2 linked regions of the Homo sapiens genome follow. The protein of the gene in region 1 interacts with the protein of each later gene in a biochemical or structural test. Each region holds a gene or a part of one and is shown on either strand. Other genes may lie near its edges.

What was found.
Region 2: the proteins of BGN (region 1) and TGFB1 form a complex in vitro, tested with the Homo sapiens proteins (one study listed by BioGRID).

Annotation. Positions count from the first base shown.
Region 1 is NC_000023.11:153,493,290-153,497,782, forward strand, and holds the start of BGN (biglycan preproprotein), read left to right. Parts: upstream 1-1,690; 5' UTR 1,691-1,824; intron 1,825-2,084; exon of another isoform or gene 2,085-2,176; intron 2,177-4,493. UniProt on the Homo sapiens protein: May be involved in collagen fiber assembly.
Region 2 is NC_000019.10:41,340,135-41,343,934, reverse strand, and holds part of TGFB1 (transforming growth factor beta-1 proprotein preproprotein), read left to right. Parts: intron 1-1,687; coding exon 1,688-1,765; intron 1,766-1,901; coding exon of another isoform or gene 1,902-1,904; coding exon 1,905-2,052; intron 2,053-3,800. UniProt on the Homo sapiens protein: Transforming growth factor beta-1 proprotein: Precursor of the Latency-associated peptide (LAP) and Transforming growth factor beta-1 (TGF-beta-1) chains, which constitute the regulatory and active subunit of TGF-beta-1, respectively.

The sequences.
Region 1 (4,493 bases):
CTGCTGTCACTGAGCGGAATGTTTCCAAATGCTTCTCTCTCCACCCAGACTGCTAGTCAGGCTTCGCTGCCTGTCCCGCTCTCTACCGACATATTTCTCCACGAATGAGTTGGCAGTGGGGGAGGGAAAGAGGGTGGGACAGAGATGAGACCAGGCTGCCAAGAGTCGGACGCTGAGGCTGGGCAAAAGGTAAAACACACAAACCTGCCGAAAGACAAGCCATCTCCTTTGTCTGGAAAGGGCATATGTGGTCTCCAATCTCCTCATTCCAACCATGAAATCAAGAGAGAACCAGGGTTACCAGCCTGGCCCCTGGTTTCCCACGTCTCTCTTCTCCCTGGCCCAGTCTAGAAGCTTCTTGCAGGCAGGTACCACAGTTTGGTCAAGGTGCCATGCGTCCCAGGTCCTAGCCAGGCCCTGGGCTGCCGCTGGTGAACAGGAAGGGGGTCTGTGCCCTGCCATGCCCCCAGGTAGAGCTCCCCTGGGAGCATCCTCCCTGGCCTGGGACCTCCCAGACCCCACCCCCCGGTTGAGTGATGGCACTGCCAGGGGTTGAAGACCCTCAGCCCTCGACGTTGTCCTCTCTCCATTGGATGCCGCCTCTCTCTAGCCACCCCTCTCTCCCTCTCTGCCCCTTCGAGCTTTTTCTCTCAATATGCAATTTTCTCTTTTGGTCTTCCGCACTCTTGGCCCCCAGTTCTATTGCAGATCTGTTTCTCACTCCATCTAAACTCTTACCCCTGTGTCTCAGGAGCTGCTCTTGCTGAGGGAAGAAGGGGACACTACGGGACAGGGGGGCAGTGTCGTACTAAGGACCTGGGCTCTAGCCACTGGAGGAACTGGACTCATTTGGGCCCTCAGGAAGCGGCTGAGTCTTGGTGGGGTAACCCGGTTAGCCCCCGTAAGTGACCAGCACAGGGCTGAGCCCAGAGGAAGTGGCCACCCACAGAGTGGTTCTCATGTCCGAGGGGACCTGCAGGGATTGAGCAAGAAGACTGACTCGCTGGATCCTTCGTCTCTGAATCAGTTCAGGGCAGGCAAGCTGGGGAGCCCCCTGCCCCGTCCTGCCACCACCAGCCGGATCGGGCCCTCTTTTTAAGGGAAGAAAGTCTGGAGTGGAAGGGAGGGCACAGGGCGCCAGGAGCCTACATGAAGTCCTTCCAGAAATCCACAACAGCTACCTCTCTGATCCTGGAGAAACCACCTCCTTGCTTAGGCCCAAGCAGGTTCCTGGCAGGCTCAGGACCAAATTCCAGGGGCCACTCATGGGCCTAGCAGCCCAAGGCCGCCTCCCCCTCGTCTTTCTTCCATCTCTCTTTCCTCTGCCTGGCGAGATGCCAGCCAGCACCTCAGTGTCCCCATCTGGGCAGTGGAAAGTTTGACTCTCTGGGTCCTTGTTTGAGTGAGTGCGAGTGTGTCCGTTCCTTTGCTGTCTGCCCCAGGCGGGGGAGGGGGGGGGAGGTGGTGGGGGCGAGGGGGCGGGGGCTCAGCTAGTCCAGCCGTCTACAAGAAAATTGCTCCCTTTGAAGCTGCCAGGGGGGCCGGGAAGCCTGCCCCCTCCTGCTCGCCCGCCCTCTCCGCCCCACCAGCCCCCTCCCTCCTTTCCTCCCTCCCCGCCCTCTCCCCGCTGTCCCCTCCCCGTCGGCCCGCCTGCCCAGCCTTTAGCCTCCCGCCCGCCGCCTCTGTCTCCCTCTCTCCACAAACTGCCCAGGAGTGAGTAGCTGCTTTCGGTCCGCCGGACACACCGGACAGATAGACGTGCGGACGGCCCACCACCCCAGCCCGCCAACTAGTCAGCCTGCGCCTGGCGCCTCCCCTCTCCAGGTAGGGCTGGCTTCAAGCTGCCTCCTCAGCAACCCAGAGATGCCCCTGGCTCTGCTGCCTCCGCTGTCCCAAGCCCTGGTCCTGCTGTCCCCAGTGCCGCGAGGGTGTCCACAGATTTCCCCGGTGCTCTCTGTAGGCTGCTGATCCACGCCCCTTCATCGCCACCCTGCGGCCCCCTTGGTCCCTGTCAGGCTTCTGCCTCGTCTCGCCGCCCTCCAGGCACCTTTCCCTCACCCCTTCCTCTCCCTCTCCCTTCTGACCTTGCTCTGCTTCATCCACCTCTTGTCTCTCTGCCTCCCGCTCGGGGTCCGTCTTCTTGGCTACCACCCTAGAGCGTGGCTGGGTGACTGGTACCCCAGCTTTGCCAATGGCCCTGTTTCATCATTGCAAGTCCCAGGCGCATGCTCCACTCCCTCAGCCTCGCTCTGCCCAGGCGCCTCCTTGCTCCAGGGCTTGGCGCCTGGCCCGGGTTGGGTCGGATCGGGGAGGACCGCCCAGCGCCCACCGAGCTCAGCACCCAGGAGCAGTCCTCCGCTGCACTGCCTGAGGCCAGTCCTTGGCATGGGCTGAAAGACTTAGTTTCCCAGGCACACCCCAGGCACCCTGCCCAGATGTTCCTCGCTCGCTCACCCCCAGGTTAATGCTCTGCCTCTACATCCTCTGTGAGAAGTCTGGGTCCTGGGAGCCCTGGCTGCAAGGGCCCTGACTGGGGGTGCCTGGGTGGCTCAGCCCTGTCTGTTTCCAGGACCCCCTTGGACTGGGACTCAGAATGGGTGTGGAGGGGAAGGAGAGAAAATCAGGCAACTGTGCCATGCTCCCCAGGGCGGACCTGGCTTGGGGTCCCAGAGGGGCCTGCCAAGGGACCCAGGAGAGGGAGCGAGAGAGTGCCCTGGAAGGCCCACGGAGGGGAGCGCCCCCTCACTGCTCCATGGGCGGGGCTGGGTGCCTGAGCGCCTGCTGAGCAGAGCAGGGGGCCCAGGGATCTGCAGGGCACAGGGTACATCAGTCTCCAGTGGTCTGTCTTGGTGGGCAGGCCTCTCTCCTGCTGTCCTGGCTGCCAGACTGCTCAGGTCCCATCCTCAGGGGGTCCTGTTTCTGGGCCCTCGCCCCTCCCTGGCCTGCCAGCTCTCTGCCCTATAGCAACTAATTGGAACTGAGACAAGCTGGAGATGCTCAGCCCCCCTGCCCCCGTGCCAGAAAGGCTCCCGGGGACCAGCGCCCAGGGGTGCGGGTGAGCACCTCCTGGTGACACCCAGCCGCCGGTGCCAGCCGCACCCCAGGAGAGCTGGTGTATGAGCATGGATGTCTTGGTGCGGAGCATGCCCATGTATGGCCACTGTGGGCCAGCATGGTGAGCCTTTGAGGGCAAGCCCGTGTGGGTATATTGAAAGGAAGATGCAGGGCTGCCTCCAAGCCACCAGGGCTGGGCGGTGGGAGCAGGTTGCGAGCCAGGGAGCAGAGAGGGCTCCCATGGCAAGCTGGCCAGCTGTGGGTGGCAGCCCTGGCCTCCCTGGCCCACCTTCAAGCCCCAAGGACCCGTACGGCAGTGGGCATTAACCCTACCAACGCATAGATGGGGAGTCTGGGAAAGGAAGGGGGGTGTTTCCAAGGCAAGAATGAGTTTCCTGTCTTTAGCAACATTCCAGAGTCACTCAAACAAAGCTATAGCGTGTCCCTTCCAGTGACAGCGCCAAGTCCCCAGAGGAGGGGTTTGTAATGAGTTCACACTTGACAGTTAGCACTCAGAGCCTTCAGCAAGGGCTTCTGAGTCCTTGCCACCCCGTATAGAGGTGGGATGAGGACCTCCCCACCTGCCGTCTCCTGTGCTTCCCGGGCCCACCCCCCACCCCCCACCCCCCAGCATCTCCAGCCTGCCCGGGAGTCACATGTCCTCGGCCCACAGAATCCCCAGCACACGCCCCACCCACAGGCCTAGCCCCAGCCCTGGGGTCCCTGGCACCCCACCTGCCAGGGCCCCTCCCCTGCCTTGCTCACCCCCCAACACCCCTGCTTGTCGGAAATGTCTTCCCATGCCCACCACGACCCCCTCCCACTCATCTGTGGGCCGGAGAGCTTGGTCCCTGCCGCACGTTGCCCCCCTAGCATCCAGGCCCACCACCGAGCCCCCGACAGGCCTGGGAGCCCCACTGGTGGGTGGGGACCCACCAGCTGGGGGTCTTGCTCACACCGAGGGGCTGGGGGTGGCGGTGGCTTTCCCAGGGCACCCTGCCTTGGGCTGCAGGCCGCTGGGTGGGCACCGGCTCCCTCGGAAGGCAGCGCAACCCGGGATCCTGCCGGCCCTGGCCCCCACCCTGCCGACCGGGCCTGGGGCGATCAGTGCCCCAGCTCCTGTCCTCTTCTGCTCAGATGCTGGGTTGGGAGATCAGGGGCCACAGCTCGGCCACTCAGAGCCCTTTCCGCAAGTCTTAGAGGGACCAGCTGTGGGGTGTGTGCAGAGGGGCTGCGCTGTGGGGAGGGCGCATGGCTCAGTCCTCCTGGCCTGAGGCCCGCCTAGCCTAAGTGGCCTCCAGGACCCATGGCCAGGCCCTTCTGCAGCCTTCCAGAAAGAACCAGCTTCCCAGGGTTCCCTGGGGAAGGCCTGGGGCCACCTCCTCTGGAGGGGTGGGGCCTGTGCTTCATTCCTCCTTCCCCAGGTCCCCTTCCAGGCC
Region 2 (3,800 bases), on another chromosome or scaffold:
GAGAGCCTAACTAACTCATTTGATCTGTCCAGGAGATGATTGTCTCTGTCTGGTTTCTGGCAGGGCCCATGGTGCCCCTATCTCTCTCCCTCACCTCCCTCTCATTTATGCTTTTATTCAATAATTGCCCACAGGTTCCTGCTGTGTGCCTGGCCATGTGCTGGGTGGTGTGGGGGACATAGTGATAACCAAGACAGCCCTCAGTTCTGCCCTCATGGGGCCCACAGTCACTTCTGGACACCTAAGAGATCTTGTCAAGGCCCCACCAGGCAGGAATGACCTAGAATGATCAAGAATGGGATGGGGAGGCACCAGCAGGGAGGACAAGGCTGGGACAGGGAGGCATGCAGGATGGGGGAACGCCCTAAGTGCTGTTGGGAGCCCAGAGAAGGCACCTGGACCCATCTGGGGAGTCTAGGAGGGCTTGCTGGGTGAGGGTGATTGTGTGGAGACTCACAGGATAAATAGTAGTTTGGCCACATGAAAAAAAAGGGATTAGGGGGCCTGGCATGGTGGCTCACGCCTGTAATCCCAGCACTTTGAGAGGCCGAGGTGGGTGGATCACCTGAGATCGGGAGTTCGAGACCAGCCTGACCAACATGGAGAAACCCCGTCTCTACTAAAAATACATAATTAGCTCGGCGTGGTGATGCATGCCTGTAATCCCAGCTACTCGGGAGGCTGAGGCAGGAGAATTGCTTGAACCCAGGAGGTGGAGGTTTCAGTGAGCCAAGATCGTGCCATTGCACTCCAGCCTGGGCAACAACAGTGAAACTCCGTCTCAAAAAAAAAAAAGAAAAGAAAAAGAAAAAATAGGGATTAGGGAGCAGGTGGGCACTGGGAGGAGTGTCCTGGGCTGTTCGACAAAGGCCTAGAAGGAGCTCATCTGTCTTGGTCAATGCTGAGTCCCAAGCACACAGCACAGGCTTCGGCACATTGTAGGAGCCTAGAAAACATCATTCACTCATTCATTCAAGAGATTGATGCTGGCTGGGTGCAGTGGCTCATGCCTGTAATCCCAGCACTTCGGGAGGCCAGGGCAGGAGGATTGCTTGAGCCCAGCCTGGGCAACATAGTGAGACCTCTGTCTCTACAGAGAATTTAAAAAGTAGCCGTGTAGGCCGGATGCAGTGGCTCAAGCCTGTAATCCCAGCACTTTGGGATGCCAAGGCAGGCGGATCACCTGAGGTCAGGAGTTTGAGACCAGCCTGGCCAGCATGGTGAAACCCCATCTCTACTAAAAATACAAAAAATTAGCCGGGTGTGGTGGCGCATGCCTGTTATCCCAGCTACTTGGGAGGCTGAGGCAGGAGAATCGTTTGAACCTGGGAGGTGGAGGTTGCAGTGAGCTGATATCACGCCACTGAACTCCAGCCTGGGCAACAGAGCCAGACTCCATCTCAAAAAAAAAAAAAAAATTAGCCATGCGTGGTAGCACGCGCCTGTGGTCCCAGCTACTCGGGAGGCTGAGATGGGAGGATTGCTTGGGCCTTGGAGATTGAGGCTGCGAGACCTTGTCTCAAAAAAAAAAAAAAAAAAAAAAAGAGAGAGCTGCAGTGAGAGGGCAGAGTGGGGTGGGTGGGGGAGGCAGGAAGGAAGCCCCTGGGGTTTGCTCCTTCCTTCCTCTTCCTCCAGGGGCTGGGTGAGCTGCACTCTCAGACTGGCTTCCCTCTCGCCACTCCTACAGGGGAAATTGAGGGCTTTCGCCTTAGCGCCCACTGCTCCTGTGACAGCAGGGATAACACACTGCAAGTGGACATCAACGGTGAGGCCTGCTTCCCCGGCCATGCCCAGTTGTGACGTGTGTGCGTGTGTGTGTTCCCATCTGCCCCACGCCCCACTTATCTATCCCTCTGAGAGTGTGTGTGTATGTCCCCTATCCCCTGACTCCCACACCAAAGCAGGGTTCACTACCGGCCGCCGAGGTGACCTGGCCACCATTCATGGCATGAACCGGCCTTTCCTGCTTCTCATGGCCACCCCGCTGGAGAGGGCCCAGCATCTGCAAAGCTCCCGGCACCGCCGAGCCCTGGACACCAACTATTGCTTCAGGTGAGCCTTGTAGCCTGGATGGAGGCCTTCCAGGCTGGGGGCATGACTGCCATCTGCTGACCAGGTGCTCCAGGTTGGACACCTGGCTGCTGCTGTGCTTGGGCTGAGCATCTGTCTCCTTTAGCTTGGAGGGCTCAGGGGATGAGGTCTGGGTGTAAGAACCAGGAGTCTTGTGCCAGGTGCGGTGGCTCACGCCTGTAATCCCAACACTTTGGGAGGCTGAGGCAGGTGGATCACCTGAAGTGAGGAGTTTGAGACCTGTCTGGCCAACATGGTGAAACCCGTCTCTACTAAAAATCCAAAAATTAGCCAGGCGTGGTGGGCGCCTATAATCCCAGCCACAAAAAACAAAAAAAGAACTGGGAGTCTTGTAATGTTGGGATCAGGTTCCTTTTTTTTTTTTTTTTTTTTTTTTTGAGACAGAGTCTCGCTCTGTCACCTGGGCTGGAGTGCAGTGGCGCTATCTTGATTCACTGCAAGCTCCACCTCCCGGGTTCACACGATTCTCCTGTCTCAGCCTCCCGAGTAGCTAGGACTACAGGCACGTGCCACCACGCCCAGCTAATTTTTTTGTATTTTTAGTAGAGATGGGGTTTCACTGTGTTAGCCAGGATGGTCTCCATCTCCTGACCTCGTGATACACCCACCTCAGCCTCCCAAAGTGCTGGGATTACAGGCGTGAGCCAACGCGCCCGGCCTAATTTTTTGTATCTTTAGTAGAGACTGGGTTTCACCATGTTAGCCAGGATGGTCTTGATCTCCTGACCTCGTGATCCGCCTGCCTCAGCCTCCCGAAGTGCTGGGATTACAGGTGTGAGCCACCACGCCCAGCCTTGCTTTCTTGCTGGAGTGTTGGAATCACAGAATGTTAGAAAGTTGAACCCTGTGATTGTTGGAATTCAAAGTTGGAAGGTCACCATCTTGAATCCCTAAATTGTTGGCAGGTTGAGGTTCTAGAATGCTGGGATTCTAGAATGCTAGAATTTGGTGTTAATTACTGAAATGGAAAATGTCGGACTCAAGGAAAGCTGAAACATTGGAATCCTAGAATTTGGGGATTCAAAATGGGAAGATGGCCCATGTGGAATTCCTGCACCACTGGCCAATTGTGGATACCAGTGTTGGCAGATTGGAGTCCTTGAATATTGGGCTCACAGTGGTAGAATTCTGTTTTGAAATATTCACATCCACAAATGTTGGAGTTGGAGAAAGCAGAATATTGGTATCTCAGCATGTTGGAACTCAGTGTTGGAATGTTAGAATATTAGAATGCTGGGATTTTATTAATAGAAAGTGGCAGCAGGCTGGGCGCGGTGGCTCACGCCTATAATTCCAGCACTTTGGGAGGCTGAGGTGGGCGGATCCCTGAGGTCTGGAGTTCAAGACCAGCCTGGCCAACATGGTGAAACCCCATCTCTATTAAAAATACAAAAATTAGCCAGGTGTGGTGGCTGGCACCTGTAATCCCAGCTACTCGGCTGGGATTACGGCTATCCAGGTACCCAGGCTGGGGCAGGAGAATCACTGGAACCTCGGGGGTGGAGGTTGCAGTGAACCGAGATCGCGCCACTGCACTCCGGCCTGGGCAATGATGCGAGACTCCATCTAAAAAAAAAAAAAAAAAAAAAAAAGAAAGAAAGTGTCAGTTTGAACCTCTTGAGTGATGGCTCAGAACTTTGGAATGTTGGGATGCAATACTGGCATACTGGAATTCAGGAATGCCAAGATCCTCAAAGGTTGGAAAGGGG